7 linked regions of the Homo sapiens genome follow. The protein of the gene in region 7 purifies or fractionates together with the protein of the main gene of each other region. This does not show direct contact. Each region holds a gene or a part of one and is shown on either strand. Other genes may lie near its edges. The genes, in order: EEFSEC, ATF7, POC5, TXNDC9, CPSF7, CAPRIN1 and PCF11.

The links.
Region 1: the proteins of PCF11 (region 7) and EEFSEC fractionate together in Homo sapiens (co-fractionation; one large-scale study listed by BioGRID). This does not show direct contact.
Region 2: the proteins of PCF11 (region 7) and ATF7 fractionate together in Homo sapiens (co-fractionation; one large-scale study listed by BioGRID). This does not show direct contact.
Region 3: the proteins of PCF11 (region 7) and POC5 purify together in Homo sapiens (co-immunoprecipitation; one large-scale study listed by IntAct). This does not show direct contact.
Region 4: the proteins of PCF11 (region 7) and TXNDC9 fractionate together in Homo sapiens (co-fractionation; 2 studies listed by BioGRID). This does not show direct contact.
Region 5: the proteins of PCF11 (region 7) and CPSF7 fractionate together in Homo sapiens (co-fractionation; one large-scale study listed by BioGRID). This does not show direct contact.
Region 6: the proteins of PCF11 (region 7) and CAPRIN1 fractionate together in Homo sapiens (co-fractionation; one large-scale study listed by BioGRID). This does not show direct contact.

The regions. Positions count from the first base shown.
Region 1 is NC_000003.12:128,264,981-128,268,480, forward strand, and holds part of EEFSEC (selenocysteine-specific elongation factor), read left to right. Parts: intron 1-3,500. UniProt on the Homo sapiens protein: Translation factor required for the incorporation of the rare amino acid selenocysteine encoded by UGA codons. Replaces the eRF1-eRF3-GTP ternary complex for the insertion of selenocysteine directed by the UGA codon.
Region 2 is NC_000012.12:53,514,969-53,518,382, reverse strand, and holds part of ATF7 (cyclic AMP-dependent transcription factor ATF-7), read left to right. Parts: intron 1-774; exon of another isoform or gene 775-1,028; coding exon 1,029-1,246; 3' UTR 1,247-3,414. UniProt on the Homo sapiens protein: Stress-responsive chromatin regulator that plays a role in various biological processes including innate immunological memory, adipocyte differentiation or telomerase regulation.
Region 3 is NC_000005.10:75,707,438-75,710,937, reverse strand, and holds part of POC5 (centrosomal protein POC5), read left to right. Parts: intron 1-3,062; coding exon 3,063-3,201; intron 3,202-3,500. UniProt on the Homo sapiens protein: Essential for the assembly of the distal half of centrioles, required for centriole elongation. Acts as a negative regulator of centriole elongation.
Region 4 is NC_000002.12:99,329,834-99,333,333, reverse strand, and holds part of TXNDC9 (thioredoxin domain-containing protein 9), read left to right. Parts: intron 1-91; 5' UTR 92-123; coding exon 124-312; intron 313-3,500. UniProt on the Homo sapiens protein: Significantly diminishes the chaperonin TCP1 complex ATPase activity, thus negatively impacts protein folding, including that of actin or tubulin.
Region 5 is NC_000011.10:61,402,229-61,405,975, forward strand, and holds the end of CPSF7 (cleavage and polyadenylation specificity factor subunit 7), read right to left. Parts: intron 2,477-3,747; 3' UTR 501-2,476; downstream 1-500.
Region 6 is NC_000011.10:34,093,231-34,096,730, forward strand, and holds part of CAPRIN1 (caprin-1), read left to right. Parts: intron 1-3,248; coding exon 3,249-3,443; intron 3,444-3,500. UniProt on the Homo sapiens protein: mRNA-binding protein that acts as a regulator of mRNAs transport, translation and/or stability, and which is involved in neurogenesis, synaptic plasticity in neurons and cell proliferation and migration in multiple cell types.
Region 7 is NC_000011.10:83,170,631-83,174,130, forward strand, and holds part of PCF11 (pre-mRNA cleavage complex 2 protein Pcf11), read left to right. Parts: intron 1-1,187; coding exon 1,188-1,284; intron 1,285-3,500. UniProt on the Homo sapiens protein: Component of pre-mRNA cleavage complex II, which promotes transcription termination by RNA polymerase II.

The sequences.
Region 1 (3,500 bases), on a different chromosome or scaffold from region 7:
TCCCTAATTCTCATAGCGCCTGTTTATTGGAGGCCTATGATGTGCCTCAAGGAGGTGTTCCCAAGTAGGTCTTCTGTGTAGATAAAGAAACTGAGGCTCCAGAAGGTGAGGTGGGCTTGAGATCACATGGTTAACAAGTGGGGCTGCTGGAGGGGAAACCTCCCTTTCTGGACGCTGTACGTCAGGGTGGCAAGTATGTGTGGAGTTATTTCTGGGTACCTTTTTCTTAACCACAGTAATTTCAAATTAAACATGACGTGAATCTTATGATGCTCAGAATCACAGAATCTGGAAGAAATCCAGGTTGGTTTTGCACTCCTGGTGGCCATCGACAGATGCCGCATTATTCTTCTGAAGACCTGTGAGAAGGATGAGTGGTTGGTGCCTTCCCATCACCCCTCCTTCTACTATGATGGCCTGGCTCTGATTTAAAAGATAGTGCCTTGATATTCCCCTTATTTAGAAGGCATTTTTAATAGTTTTACTTTATGCGACAAGAGAAACTTACAGCCTCATTGACTGCCCTCCCCTTCAACAAGAATAAAAGGTAGGGAACACATGCTACTTAGAATTCATGTGAGACCTTGCCTGGAATGCTGGGGTCCAGGGCAGTTCTCTAATCCTTGAAGGAGCCTACAGTGCAGGGAAGTGGAGGTGCTCAGCCCTGTGGACTCAGCTAGCTGCTAGAGAGGCTTGGATGTGCATGATTTCAATTTGCATGTTAATTGGGAATGGCTACCTGGAGGCTGTATTGAGGCATTTTAAGGTTGTCTGGCTCACTAGGTGTGTTGGTTAAGGTTCTCCGGAGAAACAGAACCAATGGGAGATACAGATATCTAGGTATCTATAGATACATAGGTAAAGATACATAGATGTAAATATGTAGATATCTGTATCTCCTATTAGTTTTGTTTTGCTGGAGAACACCAACTAATGCACCTAGTATTAGATGCAGATAGATAAATAGATACGTTTTTTAAGGAATTTGCTTATACTATTATAAAACCTGGCAAGTCCAAAATCTACAGGGTAGGCTGGCAGGATTGAGGCCTAGGGAGGAGCTGCAGCTTGAAGGCCATTTGCTGGCAGAATCCCCTCTTCTCTGAGGAGGTTAATCCTTTTGTTCTTAAGGCCTTCAACTGATTGGATGAAGCCCACCTACATTATAGGGGTCATCTGCTTTACTCAACATCCACCAATTTAAATGTTAATCTCATCTGAAAACACCTTCACAGAAACACTCAGAATAAAGTTGGAGCACTGTGGCCCAGCTAAGTTGACACATAAAATGAACCACATCACCCGCTGGGTGAGAGGGCCATGATAGCAGCACCTGGCCTGAGTGAGGGAAGTGGAGAGGGTCCCTACTGGCACCCATGTCTTGCGTGTGCCATCCCTCATCTAGAGCAGCATGGTTGGATATAGGGAAGGGGCATTTCATGGAGGGCAGGCATGAACAGGGTTCCCCCAAATGAAGGCAACCTGAGGTTTCAACCCCCCAGCTCATTTTACAGCAGTGTGTCTATTACTTCCTTCTGCAGGGGCCAGGGGTATTAGGGAAGAGTCTCCTGACCAGAAAGGACAAAACAAAAGAAAGGACTTGGCTCTGGCCAGGTTCCAGAGCTCCTTGGATCTAGTGGGAGGAGTCGAATGGCAGGGCCCCACCATATCCAAGGAGCCCTGGAACCTGGCCAGAGCTGGGTGTTAGGATGTCCCCCAGACACTGTGAGTCACAGTCCCCTCCTTTACCTGCTGTCATGTCCTCCTCTGAAGACCATTGGTCCCAGAAAAAGACCACTTGAATAAAATCTAGTTTAAGCCAGGGACTAAAAGTGCAAATCTTCAAAAATAAAGCACAAAAGTGTAAAAGTAGATTCAGTTTATATTTAACAAAATTAAGATTACTTTGGTGACTGTTTGCAGATTCTTTGCTAGAACAGAAAATGAATCAGTACTAAATTTCTTTCCAGTCTCTGTGCTTCCTAAGTCAGACCTCTGGGGGCCACTCTGACCTGGCATCCCTTCCACTCTGGGAGAAGACATGCTTGCAGCTTGGGAGAGGACCTGGGAGTATGAAAGAGGTGTCAAAAGAGGGCTCTCTGGGGGGTGGGGTAGACTTTGAATTGGGGGTACCTGAGGTTCTAGAGGGAGAAAAAGGTTTTTGATAAGAGTCAGTGGCTGCAATGTTAGGGCTGAGGGCATGGAGAAGGGCTGAGGCAGAGAAGTCAGTAGTGGTAAGGAGGCAGGGATGTTCGAGTGGGGTCCTGTTCTGAGCTTTTTGGCCACCCTCTTTGTCCTTATAAAGGTGGAACTTGCCTATCAGGATGCCAGTTACTGATCTTTAGTACTTGGGCACATGGCAGGTGCTTGGCAGATACAAATTTAATTCTCCTTTTACTTTTGTGCACCTGTTTTTCCCCAGCCTACTTTTTAACACTTTTGGTGTCTACTGCCTGATGATCTAATTTACTAGTCAGGAAAAGCAGAACTTGTAAGCAATGTACTGAGACATTTGGTTAAGGAGATTTCTAAGCAAACTGTGAAAGATGCTGCCTTGTTTCTCCATTGATGCTTATAGTAAAACATGAGGGAAAAGGAATGAATTGAGGAAGGAACTGTTAGCAAACAGAAATCAGCGCTTGATGATTTCGGAGGTTCTCAGTCCCTCTAGATTGCAAAGGATGTTAAGATTAGGAAATTCACTGCTGAGAAAGCATACCTTGGAGAGAAGGCCAAAGGTGAGCCTGGACAACCTTCTGTTGAAGAGAGGAGGTGTGTGACTCACAGATCCAAGCAACTTAGCAGCAACCAGAAATAGAGATGGACTTCTATAGCAAAGTTATGCGGAGAGCCGTCTTGGCTAATGGCATGGACCCCTTGATGTATATAAGAGACCCTCAAGGGTTTTGAGAATGTTATACCAGCAAGAACACTGGACTGAAAGGGAGAGAGACTTGACAAATGAATAAAAAGCTGTCAGACTTCTGGGATTCTACAGACAAGAAACAGGCTGATAGAACAACTCAGCTACAAACACATGTTATCCTTCAAAAACTAAAAAAGGAAGAATGACTCTGAGAGCAGGGCTCTGGAAACAGAAGTGAGGCTAGGGGAGTAGCCACAGAGGTCAGTCTCAGGTATTGAAACCTCATGGAATTTGCCCTGCTGTGTTTTAAACTTGCTTGGGACCAATGAACCTTGTATTTTTTCCACCGTCTCCCTTTTGGAATGTTAGAAGTAGGTAAATTGTTTTCTAGGTCCACAGATGGAGAGGCATTTTGCCCCAGGATAGACCATATCTAGAGTCTCACCCCTACCTGATTAGGTGACTTACATGATGACATTAGGAACTTTTTGAGCTGATGATAATTTAGATGAGATTTTGGACTTAGAGTTAATGGCCTAATGGACTGAGAGTTTGGGGGATGTTTGAAGAGGTGAATGTATTTTGCATGTGGGATGGATGTAAATTTTGGGTACCAGAGGGTAGACTATAGTAG
Region 2 (3,414 bases), on a different chromosome or scaffold from region 7:
CTTTAGGTGGAGTGGCATAACTTATAATGTTTTATAATCATTAATGCCTAGCTAATTTTTAGTCAGGAGGGTCTTAAGATTTCTTTGTAGTTTTACATGTTAACTGAACCCGGGCCAGGGACTGGCCATTCATAATATCATTTAATTATAGCTTGATATCTATCAGACTTACCTGTGGTACAACTACATGGTAAAGGAACATTAAAAATAATGGAATAGGCCTGCCACAGTGGCTCACGCCTATAATCCCAGCACTTTGGGAGGCCAAGGCAGGCCAATCACTTGAGGTCAGGAGTTTGAGACCAGCCTAGCTAACGTGGCAAAACCCCATCTCTACTAAAAATTCAAAAATTAGCCAGGTGTGGCAGTGTGCACCTGTAGTCCCAGCTACTCGGAAGGCTGAGGCACGAGAATCACTTGAACCTGGATGGCAGAGGTTGCAATGAGCTGAGATTGCACCACTGCACTCCAGCCTGGGCAACAGAGCAAGACTCAGTCTTAGGAAAAAAAATAAATAAATAAAATAATGGAATAATTCAGTTCCTGTGAGAATTAATCAAAGAGGATGGCTAAAAAGAGATCTATTTTAAATCATCTTTAAAGAAATGAAGGCCAGGCGCAGTGGCTCATGCCTATAATCCCAGCACTTTGAGAGGCCAAGGCAGGAGGATCACTTGAGACCCTATCTCTTAAAAACAAGAAAGAATAGAAGTAATGAATAATAATAAGAGTTGGTAATGAACTATGCAAAGACCTAGAAACCAGACAGTGTAATTAACATGTTGGAGATTCATTTTATTGGAATAGATAGGTTAATTTTGGCCTAGTTCTTCCCTTCTTACAACTTCCCATTTCCTAGCCCATTTATGACTTAGAAGCCAGGATTCTGGGAAGTTTTCCCCAAAAAAAAGATGGGTTTCATTTCCCTTTTGGGCTCCTTTAGAATTATGGCAAAAGGTAGTCCTGCCTCTTTCCCCATTCTGTTTTCTAACCAATTGCTCTCTGCTCTTTGCCCTCCTTCCTGGCAGAAAGCCCCAAGGAAAGCTCAGAGCCAACGGGTTCTCCAGCCCCTGTGATTCAGCACAGCTCAGCAACAGCCCCTAGCAATGGCCTCAGTGTTCGCTCTGCAGCTGAAGCTGTGGCCACCTCGGTCCTCACTCAGATGGCCAGCCAAAGGACAGAACTGAGCATGCCGATACAATCGCATGTAATCATGACCCCACAGTCCCAGTCTGCGGGCAGATGATGCCTCCTCTGGTGGAGAGGTCCTCAGCCAGAGCTCGCCCGCCCAAGAGCCAAGAGAGATGTCATCTTATCCCCTCCCATCTGCCTTGGACATGGCAATATGGGTGGGGGGAATTGTGTGTTGTGAGTAATGGACAGATATGGGGCTTTTTAGCCATGTGGTCATGTACGTTTGACACCTGTGCTGGGGGCCTCCCAGCCCCGGAGCCTCATAGATCATCCCCCAGGGTGGGGTTTCTGATGCATCCACAGCCAAAGGCCTTTCCAGATGGTCCGAACAATCACCCCTGCCCCATGCACGTGTATCTGTCTCTTTTAACACTAACCCTTGGCACTTCTAGGTTTGGGGTTTCTCAGTTCCCTCTCTTCCCACTAAGCCGTGGCTGTTACCTTTTTGTTCCTTACCAGCATGCCACTTCCTGCCAGATAGAGGGAGGCTAGATTTGATGACATATTACCCGCTGACCCAGCCCCAGCCACCCCATGGACTCAGGACTCAGGTCTCCCATAGCTGCTTATTTACCCGTTTCCTTTTTCCTCTTCCTTAATTCTAGTTAAAACATTCACTTACGGAGAATGTAAGGTTACCTTTGATGTATGAAGTAGCAGTATTTTCCAGTTTTTCCATAAGCTTTATTCCTTCTCTCTACCTGCCACCAAAAAGAAAGAAACCCTCAAGAGTTCTAATTCTTTTTCATCTATTTGCAGAGCTATTTGGGTACCTCATTTTGTCCCTTGACTTTAGTGTAGTGGTGGGGTCTTTCCCACCACCCCACTAAGCCTTGGCAACCTCATTTTGTGGCCTTATTATTAAAGATTGCTTGGTAGTGAAAAGGGAAGGGCCCAGAATCTGACTGGCTGATTCTGTCTCCTCCCCTCCCTCCTTCTTTAGTTTAACCATCAGGGCAGACAGGAACAAAGTATTTCAAAGCTTGTTCCATCAAGTTAGGGATTAATCGATTCCTTTATGTTTTATAAGAGTTTACCGGCCAAAGCATATTGTCATCTTTGGTCATTTTTCTGCTCCTGCTTCTCTCTCTTCATTCCCCTATCAACATTACCGCCCCTGTCTCTCTTCTGTAACTACTTCAGACTCAGCCCTCCTGGAGGCTGTCATGTAGGGGACTCTCGAGTTCCTTTGTTCTACCCCATCTCTCCCCCTCACACATCTGTCTGCTTTTCTGAGCTAGAGTCTTCTGTTCACAAGTGCCCATCACCGTCTGGACTATCTTCTTTCTCTTTCACCAGGTTCCTAGCTTAGCCACTAGGTCTTCCAGGTCCTCCAGAGTTTCTTCAACCCATTTCTTCTCTCTTCTCTTTACATGCAGTGCTCCAGGATCTTGAAGCGTCATAGCCAAGATGCTGAGTGGGTTTACTTGAGTATAAGATTGAAAGGAGGGAGGAAGAGGAGAGGGAAAGTGCAGAACTGGTCCCAGCAAAGGACCCCAGGTTCTGGCCTGGGAAATTGGTGACTATTGCTCTCAACCATTCTTACTTTGAAGAGTTGGGTTGCAGAGGGAGCAATTCATCTCTCTTGTCCCTCTTCCACGTTAAGGCTTCTCATCTCCCCTTGGCTCTGAACTATGCAGTTTCTACCAGGACCATAGGAAGCAATTCAGAGCCAGAGGCCTGTGGATAGATAGGTCAGCTTTAATTGCCTTTCCGTATGAAACCCTTCCAGTTGTCCCAGAGCCACTTTCTGCCATCTGTGCAAGCCAAGAATGTCCTTCTCTCCATCTTTCCTACCTCCATCTTAAACATACATACAAAATAACTGCCAGCTTCCTTTCTTATTTTGTCTCCAAAATTGACTGTCACAGGGGAATGAGAAAATGTTCTAAGCTACAAGATTCCCGTTTCCTTAAAGTGATATCCTGTCCTAGTGAACCAGTCAGGTAACAGGTTCTGCTGCATTTGTTTTAAATTTCCCCTCCTGCTTTTCAGAGCTGGTGCTGAACAGGCCACACCCCTAAAGACAAAGGAGAGAAAACACGGTTTTCTCATCCTCTACCATCAGGTACCCAACAGGAATAGGCCCTGAAGTGATTCAGACTAGCAAATGTTATGGCAGATGGTCAGGACGCAGGTTACCACATCCAGGGACTTCACTTTTGCCTTTAAAAATTCACAGCCGTAACTTGTGCTCAGGACTTCCCCTTTAGCTGGCTG
Region 3 (3,500 bases), on a different chromosome or scaffold from region 7:
TCTCTTATCCAGAGCAGAAGTCAGACTAGGGAAGCCACAAGTGAAAGCCACTGACTTCCACTTCTCCCTCCGTTCCTACATGCTAGAGGTGGTGATAGGCTAACTCTGAGTAGAGCTGACTTGGCTAAATCTAGTTGCAACTGACACCACAGCAGGAACACTATAAAAAGTTTATGAACCTCACAATATAAGATCACCATCATATTAATCTGCTCAGGCTACCATAACAAAGTACCATAAATTCATAGGCTTAAACAACAGACATTTATCTTCTCACAGTTCTGGAGGCTAGAAGTCCCAGATCACAGCCCAAAAGGGTCAGTTTCTGGTGAGGGCTCTCTTTGTGGATTGCAGACAGGTGCCTTCTTGCTGTATCTTTGCATGGCCTTTCCTCAGTACAGTATGTGCAGGTGGGAGGAGAGCATGCACAAGGTTCCTGGTGTCTCTTCTGATGAGTACATTAATGCTCTCAGGGCCCCAACCAATGACCTTATTTAACCTTAATTACTTTCTTGAAGGCCTCATCTCCAAATACAGCCACACTGGGTGTTAGGGCTTCAGCATATGAATTTTGAGGGGACACAAACATTCAGACTCCGTAACTCCATAACAGCCACACTTTTATATATTCTTAGCCAAAATCAAAAGTATATTTTGGGTGTTTGGGAAGTATAATAGTGCTTTAACAGAAACCAAGTAAGGGTGGTTTAAGTGGGTTCCTTACAGTTTCATTCTGTCTCTCATAAATTCTGAGCTGATACGTAGTCCTGAGATCATCTGAGGACCCAATCCCTTCTCTCTTTTTGCTGTACCATGAGCTGTTGACCGTGTTTGCATTGTCAGGTACTGGTGCACTGACAGTGTACTACCACTAGCCCATGGGAAGAGGGGACCAGCAGGAAGCAGCTTCGTTTTTAAGGACTTCACCTAAAGTTGTACACATCATTTCCAGTTGAATCCCATAGACCAGGTCTCTTGGCCACACCTAGCTGCAGAGGAGGCTGGGAAATGTAGCTGGGTGGCCATTTGCCCAAATCAAACCCTGGGGCTTTATTAAGTTAAAGAAATTAAAAAGAAATGGATGCTGCTGGATTAGTTACAGTCTCTATGCACTTGAAATTTTATGTATTAGTTTATTAGGACCAACACACACATTCAGGTTTATAGGAACTAGTAAATATCTTGTGCATGGCCCCAATTTATTAAGCTCTTTGGGAATTTCTTTTTGATAATTAGAAAACCAATATGCTTTGGGAAGTGTATTTTTTTTAACCTAAGGATATTTAAATCTATTTAAATAATCATAGTTACTTTTGTCAATGTAAAAATTAAATGTTGGTGCTCGCTTCAGCAGCACATATACTAAAACTGGAGCCACACAGAAAATTAGCATGGACCCTGTGCAAGGAGGACATGCAAATTTGTGAAATGTTCTATAATTTTTTAATAATTTTTTTAAGTTTTATAATATAAAAAAAGTTGTATTGTGATATCCTAAATGATTTGTTTCCTAATAAGAGCCTTCTGTCTCAGTGATAACCATTATGTAAAATACTGATTTTTATTTGCTACTAGGAAATGTAAGTTTAAAACTCAGACAGATGTTTATTCTCATGAAGGTGACATCACTAACAAAAATGGTTGATTATAGCAATATGAAGGAGATTCTGGTTGAATTTTCTAAAGATTTTCTCTTTGAAATATCTCTCTCTTCCTCTTCTGTCGTTAGCCTTAAAATATATAAAAATCAGTATTTGCTATACCTAATGTTTACTGCGTGTAAGTATCTATGTTAAATATGTGAATCAGGCCGGGTGCAGTGGCTCACGCCTGTAATCCTAGCACTTTGGGGGTCCAGGGCTGTGGATCAAGAGGTCAGGAGTTCAAGACCAGCCTGACCAACATGGTGAAACCCCATCTCTACTAAAAGTACAAAAATTAGGTGGGCGTGGTGGTACAAACCTGTAATTCCAGATACTCAGGAGGCTGAGGCAGGAGAATCGCTTGAACCTGGGAGGCAGAGGTTGCGGTGAGCCAAGACCATGCCACTGCACTCCAGCCTGGGCTACAGAGCAAGACTCCATCTCAAAAAAAAAGAAGAAAAAAATTGTAAATCAAGAAATCAAGGTTGAAGCGCAAACCAGGTCACTCTTGTACATGTAATTGCCATAAAAGCTAGCAGTTTTCAAATATATAAAAGCATAAGCTTTTTTAAAAAACAATTTTACTTAAAATTCCGATATAAAAAAGCAGATGAAAACAAAACTACAGTAGTATAGATTTATTTTGTAAATTCAAATGCAATCAGTTAATAAAAACAGTTAAGCTGCCTTGATAAATGTACATTTGAAATTGGGGGGTAATAGAAGGCCATTGCAGTTTTATAAACTTAAGTATCCAGTTTGCTTCTATATTTTGTTTAGGTTACATAATTTTTTTTCAGTTCCAAAAATGGTATCTTTTTAATAGCATGTCTCATCTTCAATTAAACCAATCTGACATATAAAATTAAGTGATAGAAAATTTTTGATTCAGTGTTGAGTCACTCACAGAACCTTATCACCTCTTCATACTTTGTTGTTGTTTCCCCAGAGACAGGATCTTGCTCTGTCACCCAGGCTGGGGTGCAGTGGTGCCATCTTGTCTTACTGCAGCTTCCAGTTCCTAGGCTTAAGTGGTCCTCCTGCCTCAGCCTCCTGAGTAGCTACAACTACAGGCACACACCACCACACCTAGCAAATTTTTGTAAAAAATTTATTGTAGAGATGAGGTCTCACTTTGTTGCTCAGGCTTCAAGCCATCCTCCTGCCTCAGCCTCTCAAAGTGCTGAGTTTACAGGCATGAGTCACTGCACCCAGCCCTCTTCAAACTGTTAATCATAAATATAAAAATCACACAAGAAGCACTCGAGGAACTCAAGCTTGGAATAAGTGGTAAAACTTTGTAATATAATAAGCATGGGACTCTATTATGGTAATTAAATTTCTTTAAAACAAATTCAGTTGAATATATTATAACATTGTAACTGTTACACTACATTATTGATTATTGGCCTCTCTTAGGAAGAATATGAAGAACTGCTTCATTATGCTATAGTGACTCCAAATATTGAACCCTGTGCTTCACAGTCATCTCATCCTAAGGGAGAATTGGTGCCAGATGTCAGAATTTCTACAATTCATGATATTCTTCATAGTCAAGGTTATATATATTTTTCAAGATATCTCTTAATTTAAAATATTACTGAGTTTATTAATGATACTGACAGGATTGTGAAAATGCCTGTCCAGATCAGTGATTCTTCTCAACCATTTATGTGTATTAGTATCATCTAGGGGAGCTTTTTACATTTTAATATATTATTCCTGACTCTCGTGTGACAGCTTGATTTTTCTTTGAACTTCATTTGACTCTTACTTTTATGAAGAATAATAAAGTTGAAGCAATGCTATGGCAACTGCATGGCTTTTTGGTATGTTGTATCTCAGTACTTGTTCCAA
Region 4 (3,500 bases), on a different chromosome or scaffold from region 7:
TATACACTTGCCAGAATTTTTGAAAATGGTAGAGAAAACCTTGCTTATTGTTTGCATTTTTTAAAATGTATTTTGTAAATCTTCTCCCCAGCACCCAGGCTGAACTCTGTACCATTTGGAAGAATGGAAGCTGATGCATCTGTTGACATGTTTTCCAAAGTCCTGGAGCATCAGCTGCTTCAGACTACCAAACTGGTGGAAGAACATTTGGATTCTGAAATTCAAAAACTGGATCAGATGGATGAGGATGAATTGGAACGCCTTAAAGAAAAGAGACTCCAGGCACTAAGGAAAGCTCAACAGCAGAAACAAGTAACCTCTCTGCCCTGCTTTCTGAAATTGCTATAACAGTATGCGCCTAACAACTTATATATACATGTGCTGTAGTAGTTACATTTCGTTCTTTGTGTTTAGGGTTTTTAAAATTCAGAATACCTATTACTGTTAAAAATTTGCCCAGAAAAAAATATGTTTTAAAGACATTCAAAATTAGCCCAATCTCTATATTAATCCACAGTCGAGTAAAAGAAAGATCTGCCCAAGATCGTTTTTCTGAGCTTGGATTTGTTTGGTTGAATGGAGGGCTAGGGAGTCATTGGTTTCCATTTCAGGTAATATTAAAGCCGATTTAGCTATTTTCAAAGCAAACGAGATAAGACAGATGAGATAAGAGCAATTAAGTCAATTTATGTTGAAAAATGTATTTCAGGCATTTCCAATGAAATAATTATGTGGCATATTCAAAAGAATGCATGCTTTGTAACAAAGGTGGCCACAGCTCTATCGTTGTTGCCTCTTAGAATGTTTGTGTAGAATAAACGCAGAGTTGTAAACTCTGACTGAAACCAGTGGATTAAATTCTGTAAATTGAAATTTTTTTTTCTGCTTTTTGAGATGGAGTCTCGCTGTGACACCCTGGCTGGAGTACAGTGGTGTCATCTCAACTCACTGCAACCTCCGCTTCCCGGCTTCAAGCAATTATTCTGCCTCAGCCACCCGAGTAGCTGGGACTACAGGCGCACACCACCATGCCTGGCTAAGTTTTGTATTTTTAGTAGAGATGGGGTTTCGCCATGTTGGCTAGGCTGCCCTTGAACTTCTGACCTCAAGTGATCCGCCCACCTTAGCCTGCCAAAGTGATGGGATTACAAGCGTGAGCTACCGCACCTGGCCAAATTGAATTTTGATTAAAACATTTTTTCCACTGGGTTACATGGAAATACTTTATCACCAACTCTGGTTCCTTTTCAGTTGACTGTGACTTAAACATGAGGCTTAACTTTTCTGAAGAAATAGGGAGTTTTGACCGGGCATGGTGGTTCACATCTGTAATCCCAACACTTTGGGAGTCCAAGGTGAGCGGACAACCTGAGGTCGGGAGTTCAATACCAGCCTGGCCAACATGGTGAAACCCTGTCTCTACAAAAAATACAAAAATTAGCCAGGTGTGGTGGCGCACACCTGTAGTCCCAGCTACTCAGGAGGCTGAGGCAGGAGAATCTCTTGAACCCGGGAGGTGGAGGTTGCCGTGAGTCGAGATTGTGCTACTGCACTCCAGCCTGGATGATAGAGCAAGACCCAGTTCCCCCACAAAAAAAGAGAAGGAGTTTTGTTTGTATTGCTGTAGCATCACTTTGATATGTTTACACCCTCATGTTTAGAAGAGTTACTACAAAAGGAAATAATCTTTTATAAGTGAGTCCAAATTTTTATATTTTGAGTTTCTAAAATAGAGTACGTTATATGGCTTTTACCTGTACCCTACCGTATTTTAAAAAATAGGCTGCTTTTCTTTTTCTTTTCTTTCTTTTTTTTTTTTTTTTTGAGAGGGAGTCTCACTCTGTTGCCCATCCTGCCTTGACCTCTCAAGTAGCTGGGATTACAGGTGCCTGCCACCATGCCCAGCTGATTTTTGTACTTTAGTAGAGATGGGGTTTCATCATGTTGGTCAGGCTGGTCTCAAATTCCGACCTCAAATGATCCGCCTGCCTCAGCCTCCCAAAGTGCTGGGATTACAGGTGTGAGCCACCCCACACCAGGCCCAATTGGCTTCTTTTCATAGTATAGGGCTGATAATTAGTATGCAAAGGACGGATTATTGGAATTTAAGGTAATATATGTTTAGGTTCTGCCACAAACTCATATTTCATAGTCACATTTAAGTACTAATTGCTAATGTGCAACTAAAAATAATTATTTGTAACTAGGATATTTTTGTAGAGAGACTGAATTCACCTGATTTGCAGTGATGAACATACGTTAAATAATGTCTTAAAGGAACTTTTTGGCAGTTCAAAACAGTGGTCTGAATATAATTAAAACCAACTAAGGCAGACTGGCTATAAGCCTTTTTTATTATTAATGTATAAATCAATTTAAAATGAATTTGTCATCGAGTAATTCAGAGGGTCTTATTTTAGAACTTTCACTGCATTTTAGTAGGTCTTTTATTAAAATATTTTCTGGAAATAGTCAAGAAACCTAGTGATTTGTATAGATATTCTTTTTATAAGAGATTATACAGTAATTAGATTATGCAGTAATTTTGATTTTCTGATCCACGAGGGTATTGGGGAGATCATTGTATGCATTGACTTACAGTCGGCACTTAATAGACCTAGGTGAATCTATATTCTTCTGTCAGCCAAGCACCCTCCTACTGTTAACTAGAGCTGGCACACTTAGGTAGGGAGCAGAATAGAGGGATAAGGTAAGAAATAGGAGTTAAGCAGAGGCTTGGGTGACAGCCACTGACAGCCAGGTGCTGCCCAGCTGCCATGCCTCAGGTAGGCCCATCCTGCTTGATTCTGTTCTGCAGATACCTTAGGAGCACATGCTGTCCAAAAGGGGCTATGCTAAGAGCACAGGGGTGTAGTGAATGTGTCAGGAGAGGCCCTGAGCATTGGTAGAGGTTTGGAATGGGCACATCCTCCCTCAAAGGAGCCCAGGACAGGTTCGGGTCTTCAGCCTCTTGGTTAAATACCTGAGAATAAATAATGAAAAGAAATAGCAGCTTTTTTTTTTTTTTTTTTTTTTTTTTTTTGAGATAAGAGTCTTGCTCTGTTGCCCCGGCTGGAGTGCAGTGGCACAATCTCGGCTCACTGCAACCTCCACCTCCCAGGATCAAGCAATTCTTCTGCCTCAGCCTCCCAAGTAGCTGGGATTACAGACGCCTGCCACCATGCCCGGCTAATTTTTGTATTTTTAGTAGAGGTGGGGTTTCGCCATGTTGGCCAGGCTGGTCTTGAACTCCTGACCTCAGGTGATCCGCCCACCTCAGCCTCCCAAAGTGCTAGTATTACAGGCGTGAGCCACTGCGCCCGGCCTAGAAATAGCAGCTTTTTAAAAGACAAATACTTTTTTTTTTGAGACAGGGTCTTGCTCTGTCACCCAGGCTGGAGTGCAGTGGTGTGATCTTGGCTCACTGCAACCTCCGCCTTCGGAGTTCAAGCAATTATTGTGCCTCAGCCCCCGAGGAGCTGGGATTACAGGTGTGTGCC
Region 5 (3,747 bases), about 22 Mb from region 7:
GGTTACACTGCTTGTCCATATTTAGATAAACAGGTGGTAAACTAGGCACTACCAGTCAGATCTTCTAACTCCTATCAAAGGATTCTTCCCTTCCTGAACTTGATACTGGAATTTAACTGCACAAGGTAGAACATTTGCTCTGAAAATAAGTCTTAGGAATCTTGAAGGGTAAAGGATAACTTAGAAGTTTTCTTTAACCAGCTGTTTAGATGGCCAAGGAAAAAAGCTAAACCTTAAGGGATGCCTCCAAAGGTTTGCATTAGAGGTCTCTTAGGAGGCTTTCCACAGTCAACTAAAGCCATGTATCACTGCCTGACATGCAATCCTAGCTAAGAACTTGGCATTTCACCATCATTCGAGTGTCTACATCAGCCCATGCCCATGCCCCAGACACCTCAACAAATCTATTCAATGCAGAATCCATAAAACAGCTCACACCCCATTTATTATTTAAAAATATTTTGTTACAAAAGGAAAAAAATACAATGCAGTATAAAAGATTGACAGCGTCATCAAGTTTATTACACAATTTTCAACCTATCAGAAAGACAAACAAATCACCGACAACAGGGGGACGGGACCTTGGCCTTTTTGAGGGATGGGTGTTTTTTTTCCTTTTGCTATCAGGAAATAAAACTAAAAATGGTGTCATTGAGTAAAAACAAAACAAATGGGGAGAAAAAAATTCTCCGGGTAAACGGCATTTCTGGTATTCTATATATATTTTTCCTTAAACTGTCACCTTTTCTCTACATTTTAAAAGACACCCGGAGTTGCTCTCAATAAGCACATCACTTAACACTTGGCCAGTTGGGTGGGGTGCCATGTTCTGAAGTGGAGGTGGGGATGGGGTTGGGGGACAGGGGAAAAAAAGCTCCAACCTGTAGCCTCTGTCCCAAGGGAATGTGCCTCTCCAATCCTGCGGGGGACTCCCTCAGTGACTGAGGGCTATATGAGAAACGTGCTGGGAACAGAGGACGGGTTTAGTCCAATTCAGTCTCTCTCCTCTGACCCAGAAGGGTCTCTAGTGACCCTATGTCTCACATGCCAAGTCTCATCTCACATGCCACGTCTCATGTTAGGTGTCAGATGCCCTGTAGATGCATGCAGAAGTAGCATCACCCCATGGGTACCGCAGGACCTCGCTGCTGCCTCCTCCTTCAGCAGCAACCACATTACAATTTGGATGTTATGGAAAAGCAATTCCATTTGCCTGTAGAGAAAATGGCCCCCAGAATGCTGGTCCTTAGAACTCTGAGCTGAGTTCATTCAAGTCGGGCTCTGTTTCTTCTGGCTCCTCATCTGAGGCAGGAAGTATCTCCAGGCAGAGTGAGAGGAGCTATTAAGTCAACAGTCAAAAGGTGAAAAGACACCAAATTTGTGACTTTACCTGCCTACTAGTGCCAGGTTATCCCACAATAAGTAAAAGTATGTACCTGGGGGATGTAAGCCCATGCTTACATCAAACCTGAAAAAAGAAAAGCCTATGGAAGTAGGCCATATCCTGCCCAACTTGCTTCTTTCCCCATTCCTCCTGGTTACTTCACAAGGGTTCTTCATTGCTGAGGTCCCAATGTCCCCATCTCCCAATGGGCAGTACCTTCCTCTAAAACAAGGAAGTAGCCTTCTGGGGGAAGGGCTCCATGTGTTAAATGGAAAAGCCCCAGGGAAAGGGAACAACTAAGAGCTGGTTATTGCAAGAGGTACCCAAGCACTAAGCAGCAGAGGGTGGTAATTGGCTCTGCCAGGCTTCCCAGCAGCAAGCAACCTCATAGGCCTTCTCTGCTTAGGAGGGGCAAGTCCACTGAGAAGGCTGGGCAGCGCAGAGTTGAAAGAGTTCAGCCCTCTGGGAGGTCAAAGAAATAAACCGTCAATACGTGAGAGGGAAAGCAGGAACAGAAGTAGCTTTTCATAAGGTAATTTCTGTTCTCATGGTCCCTCCTCAAAGGGCTGGAAAGGTAAAGGAGTTAAACAAAGAAGTGGTATGTTAGCAAGGGGTTTGGACCCTCTTGGCCCCATTAAATCTAGTGCTGAGGGCAGGACCCTGGGCATATTTTGGCACACCCAGTCACTCTCCTAGATCCTGCATGGAGGATCTATTTTCTTTGGGAAGGAAGTCTTCCCATCAACCTCACCATTGAACGGCTCCCGGAGAATCAGAAACTCATACGTTTTCTTGGACAAAGCACCATTCTCTATGGAGACCAGGGGCCTGGACATGTTTTCTTCCTGTCTGCCACCCCTCCCAATCACACGAAGTCTTTAGGTTCTTTCCCCTGGCAAACAGGAGGTGTGGGATTGGGAGGACTGCCAAGCAGTCTTCAATCCTGTGGGGCAGAGGGTATTCCCTGGGTGTCTGGAGGGAGTTAGGGGTTTGGAGGAAAGGGAAGGGGGTGGGGCGGCCTCCGTCCTTTAGTCCTGATCAAGGTGAGGAGATGCAAGTCCATTAAAAAAACATTTGCTTCCAACCAGACTCCTGCAATGAGAACATCAGAAGAAAAGAAAGAAAACACAAGTTAGAGGTTACTTTCTGAATGACAGGGGCTTATATAAAACACACATATTCTAACGCTACAACATAAGAAGTAAGGAATGCAGACAGAGAATGCAAGTCTGGGAAAACAAAGCAGGACTGTCTGACACTAGAAGTGGTGAGGAATGGCTGGAGGAGAAGCTACTGTGAGTAGAGAGAAAAAAAGCAGTGACATCCACTATAAAGATTCGGTGAAAAAACAGAACAAAATGAGGTCTCTGAACGTTCGACTGAAAAGGAGACTTTGGCTGCAAAAGTATGGAAACTGTGACATATTTCAAGAAAAGTTGCTAAAAGGGAATAAGGTGAGTTTAAATATAGGTTAAGAAGTCTATTCTGTGCAAGTCATAGCTTACCTTAAGGGGAGGGGGAAAAATCTGGAAATGGGAGGTTTAGTGGTAAGAAAACAAGTATGTACACAACCAAATCCATTAATCCCCAAACACCCAAGAGGCCCTAGCAGGCAGGATGCACATACACAGGAAACTCTTAAATCCTTCTTTTTTCTTTTTAAAGGAGTCCTGGCTAAAAGTGCCTTTATGAGTATGTGTGTACACAAACACAGCCCCAGAGGTTTTCCAAGTGTACTAAAACTCGAGATTTTAAGTCTTTCCTCGCATGACAGCCATAGGTGAGGAACCAGGAAACATACTAACACTAAGCAGGAGTCACGTGGCCAGGCCAGAACAGAAAGCAGAGCATGGAAGAAACCTAAATGCAGTTAAGAAGTTTTACCCAAAAGGGTCTATTAAGCCACCTGTCACATGGCCACCAAACAAAGTTCCTACTATACTCAGCACCTGTTCCAATGCTGCAATACCCATCTGCGGGTGGTGGTATGGTCAGTCTGAGCATATTAAACAGAATTAATAGCCAAAGGGAAAATGAGGAATTAGAATTTCTCCTAATGCCCAAACTGGCAACACAGCCTACGCACAAATGTTTACCTTTTATATAACTACTTCTGTAAAGTGGCCTTATAAAACCTAGAGGAGACATCTACGTCCTCCCTGATCCTTGTACACACCGAAATGACACTATTTTCAGCTTGGGTCCTCAGAATCTATATGGCCTAAGCCTTCCTGGCCTGTCTAAACACCTACGCAGGCTGGTATTTGTCCCATTTTCTCTAAGGGAAAACTGAAGCCCTCAGTGCACTCAATTACATACCATTAGGGCTTCTGAATCTTTGAATTCGATCCAAATTGAAGAGA
Region 6 (3,500 bases), about 49 Mb from region 7:
TGTTGCCCAGGTTGGAGTGCAGTGGTGTAATCAGATACTGGAGCCTTTAACTCTGGGGCTCAAATCCTGTACTGGAGCCTTTAACTCCCCACAAGTAGCTTGGACTGCAGGCTTTTCTCAAACTCAGGGCCTCCAGCAGTCCTCCCACCTCTACCTTATAGGCATGAGCCACCATGATGTCTTCTTTAGTTCTTTAATTCCTCAGAATTTAATTGGAATCCCACAACAAACCAGCAGTCAGAGGAGTTAATACTTTCATTTTGTCAGCCCGATTTTGAAAAGTTGTAAAATTTTCTAATTATTCAATTTCTTGGTAAACTTGGATCAGCATTAGATTTTTCAGTAGTAAATTCTTACACATCCTGTAGTATTCAGTATCACTAATATGAAGCTCGAATCTTCCATACTCTGATAGAAGTTATCAGTTATACTATGCTCAGCTTCCAAATGATAAAAACTAGTGGTGTGATCACCATGGCTCACTGTAACCTCTGCTTCTGGGTTCAAGGGATCCTCCTACCTCAGTCTCCCAAGTAGCACAGGCCACCATGCCTGGCTAATTTTTTTTTTTTTTGTATTTTTAGTAGAGAGAGGGTTTCACCATATTGTCCAGGCTGGTCTCGAACACCAGTCACATACGCAGCAAGTTCTCTTTAATCTCAGGGCCTTCATACTTACTTTCCTTCTTGCCGAAAACTTTCTCCCACTGATAAGTACATGGATTGCTTTTTCTATTTTTTTAAAAAAAGTTCATTTGTTTATTTTTAATTGAGAAGTAGAAACTATATATATGTGTATTTATGGTATACAGCATGATGTGTTGAAATGTGTGTCCGTTGTGGGCGGGCTTCATGGCTGGCACCTATAATCCCAGCTACATTTGAGGCTGAGGTGGCAGGATTGCTTGAGGCCAGGCGTTCATGATGAAATAATATGTATACATTGTGGGCCGTTGTCCAGTGCAGTGATGCAGTCTCGGCTCACTGCAACCTCCGCCTCTTAGGTTCAATCGCTTGGGTTCAAGCGATTCTCCTGCCTCGGCCTCCTGCCTCAGGCCTCAGGTGATCCACCCGCCTCGGCCTTCCAAAGTGCTGGGATTACAGGCGTGAGCCACCATTCCCGGCCTGATATTTGTTGAAGAAATCATTTCAGTATGTCCCATCATTTTAGAAATTTTATTTTGAATTAGTGTCTAATCAGGAACAACATGACAGAATCTTTGGCTTTTTAAAATGGCCTACAAGTTTATACTTTACCAAAATTTAAGTAGGAATTTGGGTATTTTAAAATAAAATGAAGGCTGGGTGTGGTGGCTCACGCCTGTAATCCCAGCTCTTTGGGAGGCCCACTTGAGACCAGGAGTTTGAGACCAGCCTGGGCAACACAGAGCCCCACCTCTATAAAATAAATACAGAAATTAGCAGGGTGAGGTGGTGAATGCCTGTAGTTGTAGCTACTCAGGAGGCTAAGGCCGGAGGATCACTTGAGCCCAGGAGTTCAAGGTTGCAGTGAGCCAAGATTATTTGACTGAACTCCAACCTCAGCAGTACTGGGTGAGAGAGCTAGACCTTGTCTTAAAAGTGAAAATTAAATAAAATAAAGATCACACTTAAGTTATTATGCTGTGAGTTTCTTCCTTTCTTTCCTTTCCTTTTTCCTTTCATTTTTTGAGACAGAGTCTTGCTCTTGTCTCCCAGGCTGGAGTGCAGTGGTACGATCTCGGCTCACTACAACTTCTTCCTTCCAGGCTTAAGCCATCCTCTCACCTCAGCCTCCCAAGTAGCTGGGACCACAGGCATGCACCACCATGCCTGGCTAATTTTTTGTATTTTGTTGTTGTTGTTGTTGTTGAGATGGGGTCTCACTGTGTTGCCCAGCTGGTCTCAAACTCCTGAGCTCAAGTAATCTGCTCAGCTTGGCCTCCCAAAGTGCTGGGATTACCAGTGTGAGCCACTACACCCAGCCTGGCTATGAATTTCTTACAGTGAGATTTGATCAAGATTAAAAGCTGTTATTGATAAAATGATTCTAAAATTCAGTTCTTTTGGCTACTTTGTACATGGATACACATGAACCATTTTACAAGGAAAATGTTATGTGTATTTGTCATTCACTTACAATTTTAAATTTTGGGAATATAATAAAAGGCAATCTATGTAAAAAGATGACACCGATGTAGTTGGTTTACTAAGTAATTCAAGAGGAGCAGTGGCTCTCTCTTTTTCTCTAGGTATTCCCTAGTGCTTTCATCGTAAAATAGGATTCTAACAACTATTAATGTATTTGGAGTTTCTTAAGGGTGTAAAATAGGTCAAGTAAAGATTTTCAAGAGTCATACAGCTGCTTTTCTCTCTGCCCCAAAAGGGGAGATTTGGGTTGGCCAGCAGCTTCTGACCCTTGTTGTTAGTGTGTGGGCCTTCCTTTGTTCTGTTGCCTTCCTCACCTCCCAAAGGTACTTTTAGCACCCTATTTTTTTCTCCTCTTTGAATTATAAACATTGTTCTGTAGTATTGAATTTTTGAAAATTTCTAGATTCTAGAACTCTGTCCATTGTGGATGGAGCTTGTATATATGTTAGTGTGTACCTTAGTCTAGAACCTTCAAGTGGGTTGAGTGCCAATGTGAGTACCATGTGATTGTTTTCTAAATTGGCTATACTTGCCATTTTAAATACTTTGAAATGGAATTTGGCATTAAGGGCTACAAGTCGAAGGCCTCTGCTGATTAAACTATGTAGTTGATGACATATTCTACCATCTAGCTGCTTAAATATGAGAGAGTGGTTTTGTATGTTTTACTAAGTAAAAAAAAGGATATTTAAAAGAATAAGAAAACTTCTACCACTAAGGAGCTTTATAATGAAAAGAAGTAATTAAATGGTACAAAATGGTAATGTACTAAGAGTAAATCTTTTGAGTTATTTTGGGTCTCTTGTGCTAAAAAGTAGATGCCTTTCAGAAGACGTTAATATAGCCTTTCAAATAATTTGTTTGGAAGGATCAATCATGCACCCTGCTTTCAAAGGTTTGGAATTGTGGTTGGAGAATTTTACCCCCAATAGCTGAGTCTAAGGGTAGGAGAAAGGTAAGAGACTTTATTCATGTGTAGTTTTTCTTATCATTGTATGCAAATTTAAGGATTAAACTTTAAGGAGACTGTATAAGACACTTCTTAAACTAGAAAGTGCGTGGGAGAACAAACGGTAATGAGCTGTTTATGTATATATCTTTTTCTTTTTTAAATTATAGTGGTTGGCACTTACCATGGTTCCCCAGACCAGTCCCATCAAGTGACTGGTAACCACCAGCAGCCTCCTCAGCAGAACACTGGATTTCCACGTAGCAATCAGCCCTATTACAATAGTCGTGGTGTGTCTCGTGGAGGCTCCCGTGGTGCTAGAGGCTTGATGAATGGATACCGGGGCCCTGCCAATGGATTCAGAGGTAAAAAAATAAAAAAGGAGGTTCTAATGACCTTTTACTAGTTCAAATTATTTTTTG
Region 7 (3,500 bases):
TGCATACTGAGACAACTTTAAGGCAGTATGTTTACAATTTGTGATTAATTCGGTTGGTTTTGAATGACTACTTTTGCTTGCGTGCTGAAATTCTCCTAGGCTGAGTTTTACTTCTTTTCCAGGTGCAGACATTTTCTTACTATGACAGATTTATTTTATAGTAGTAAGATTGCATGGAAGAAAATACAAAATAAGAAAGATTTTAAAAGTACATTAGGAACATTATTGATAGAAAGTAGTCCTTCTGTTCATCTCTAATGGTACGAAAAAACAGTTGGCTTGCCTAGATTTACTCTACTGTATATCCTTGAAAGAAATGATACTCTTATTGACAGATACTCTAGAATGGTACTTACTTAGTCTTGTTTCTACATTACACAGAATCGGTGGGGTTTTTATTATGTGTACTCACTACCAAAAGTCCACATGTATACTGAACAAGGATTATAAATGGATATTTATTCACATACCAGCAATATGTAGAAGTCCTGCCTCCCTCTGGACTGCAAATGCTGTATTTGTATGCCAGTATAGTTCTTGCTCCATGACTATTCTGTTTTTTAACATTCCCTTTGACATCTTTTACAAGACCTTTTACAAGATTACTTTGTAATGTGGCTATAACCATGTGCAAAGATGATGGCCAAGCAAGATGCTTACCTGCTTGGTAATTCAGAATGCTAATTAGAACAGGCTTTTGATATCTGTGGAAAAGTGGCAAGGGTTAGGAGTTCTGGCCTCAGTTTTGCTCCTAACTAGCCCTTGTGATTGTGTATAGATCATATTGCATTATGTCAGTTCTTCTATTTGTAAAATAAGGGAAAGCACCAGCAAGGTAAAGTGACTTGTGTAAAGTAACACAGCTAGTTACCTTATATTTGCATGGTATCTTACAGTTTCCTTTTTGGGGGGCTACTTTGCCTCTCTAGTAGGTACCTTAAACTTTTCAAAGAAGTTTTAACCCATTCTCAGTAACTTATACCTCTATGAAACAGATAAGGGAAGGTTTTATTGTTCCTGTTTGTAGAAGACCTAGAAGTGAAGTGATGCAGCCAAGTTATCTTTCTAAATCTTTATTTATAAGCCAGGCCTTGTGACATCTATGAATATTTTTATGTAATTAGGATGTTAAAAGTTTTACTTGAAATATAGAAAGCATGTTCTTAAAATTAAGGTTTTTCTTAAAGGTTCTGAGTGGTGTTGCTCAGCCAGTAGCTTTTGGTCAAGGACAACAGTTTTTACCAGTTCATCCACAAAATCCTGGATTTGTTCAGAATCCTTCAGGTATGTACTTTCTGAACTTTGTTTTTCAAAAGACAAATGATTATTGTTTTGTTGAATAGCTAACTTTGTGAATTTTAGGAAATGACAGTTTTGCAAAGGTATATTTAATTTAGAGAAATTTAATCTGGCTGACATATTTTTGTTCCTTTTCTAAGTTTATTTACATTGTGGATGTGTATTCATAATGACCCTATTTACAGCTAGAGATGGTTAGCGGGGACTTGTAGTCCACTAAACAAAGGGAAGGAAACCTATTGGGTGGAAACTGGGAGTGGGAGGGAAGGTATGACATTTGTGTTGAGATAGAATGAAATAAATGACAGACCTTAGAAATCTCAGTGAATACTGAGGATACTGCATTAATAAAGTTGATTAATTTTTATGTTTTTGTGGGCACTCAAATAGCAAAAAGCGGCTTTCCTAGCCAGGTTCACTGATAAGCATCTTTGTTACTATGGGGTGATGCTTAGTACTAGATAAAAGGACTTTTAAAATGGATTTTAGTTTTATTTATTTATTTATTTATGAGGCAGAATCTTGCTCTCTTACCCAGTCTGGAGTGCAGTAGTGTCATATTGCCTCACTGCAGCCTCTGCCTCCGGGGTTCAAGCGATTCTCCTGTCTCAGCCTCCCAAGTAGCTGGGACTACAGGCGTGTGCCACCAGACTGGGCTAACTTTTGTATTTTTACGGGGTTTCACCATCTTGGCCAGGCTGGTCTCGAGCTCCTGACCTCAAGTGATCTGCCCACCTCAGCCTCCCAAAGTGCTGAGATGGCAGGTGTGAGCCACCATGCCCGGCAAAATGAATTTTAGTTTTAATATGTGGTAATAGGGAAGTACATACATTAGTGATACTTGCTTTCATTTCTGAATCATTGAAACAGCTGTTTCAGAAACATGCTTTACTGTAGTATTGAGTTAATCAGTTTACAATAAATTTATGGAGTTTTCCAAAACTTCTGAAGTAATTAGGAAATCCTAGCCAAGCTCTTTTTTATACATTAGTCCTTAAATTGTGTCAAGAAATTCAATGAATTTGGAAGCTTTTAAGTTTTAATTTCTACATGGACAATTATGACTAATTAATATTTGTTATTATTATTATTTTGTTACTATAATGAAAAGAGAAGGAAAGAATTTGGGATCTAAAGCCCAGAAGACCAGGGTTGGAATCTCTACTATGTTACTTTATAAATGCGCAGGCTTTAAGCAAGTATCTCCCCTGAGGTTCAGTTTTTTCCCTCTGTAAACAGCATATGGGCCGGGCATGGTGGCTCACGCCTATAATCCCAGCACTCTGGGAGGACGAGGCAGGTGGATCACAAGGTCAAGAGATGGAGACCATCCTGGCCAACATGGTGAAACCTCGTCTCTACTAAAAATACAAAAATTAGCTGGGTGTGGTGGTGCATGCCTGTAGTCCCAGCTACTCAGGAGACTGAGGCAGGAGAATCGCTTGAACCCAGGAGGTGGAGGTTGCAGTGAGCCAAGATCAGGCCACTGCACTTAGGCCTGGTGACAGAGTGAGACTCCGTCTCAGAAAAAAAACCAAAAACCAAAAAAAAAACATGATATGGTAGTATCAGTATTTGTCTGTTTTGTTGTTGTTTTTTTTTTTTTAGAGAATCAAATGATATAGTATATGCAAAAGTACTTTGTAACTTGTAACTTGTCAAGTGCTATATTAATGTATTTTCCTTTAGAACTCAGTTTTTATTGTTGAGCAGAGGATTTGTTATATTGGGGTTAGTGGCATGAGATGCTCTACAGAAACTACAAATTTTCTTGTTTCTTTCTTTCTTTCTTTTTTTTTTTTTTTTTTTTTTTTTTTTGAGACGAGTCTTGCTCTTGTCACCCAGGCTGGAGTGCAGTGGCATGATCTCAGCTCACTGCAACCTCTGCCTCCTGAATTCAAGCAGTTCTCCCGGGCTCAGCCTCCCCAGTAGCTGGGACTACAGGCACATGCCACTACACCTGGCTAATTTTTGTATTTTTAATAGAGGCAGAGTTTCACCATATTGGTCAGGGTGGCTTGAATCCTGACCTCAGGTGATCCACCTGCCTTGACCTCCCAAAGTGCTGGGACTACAGGTATGAGCCACTGTGCCCAGCCTTGTTTTGCTTTTACAACCTTGGGTTATATGTGTATGTGTACAGGACATAGCAGTGTCACAGAGGAAATCATAATTATTCCCCTTGTTAGGGGGTATTGAAT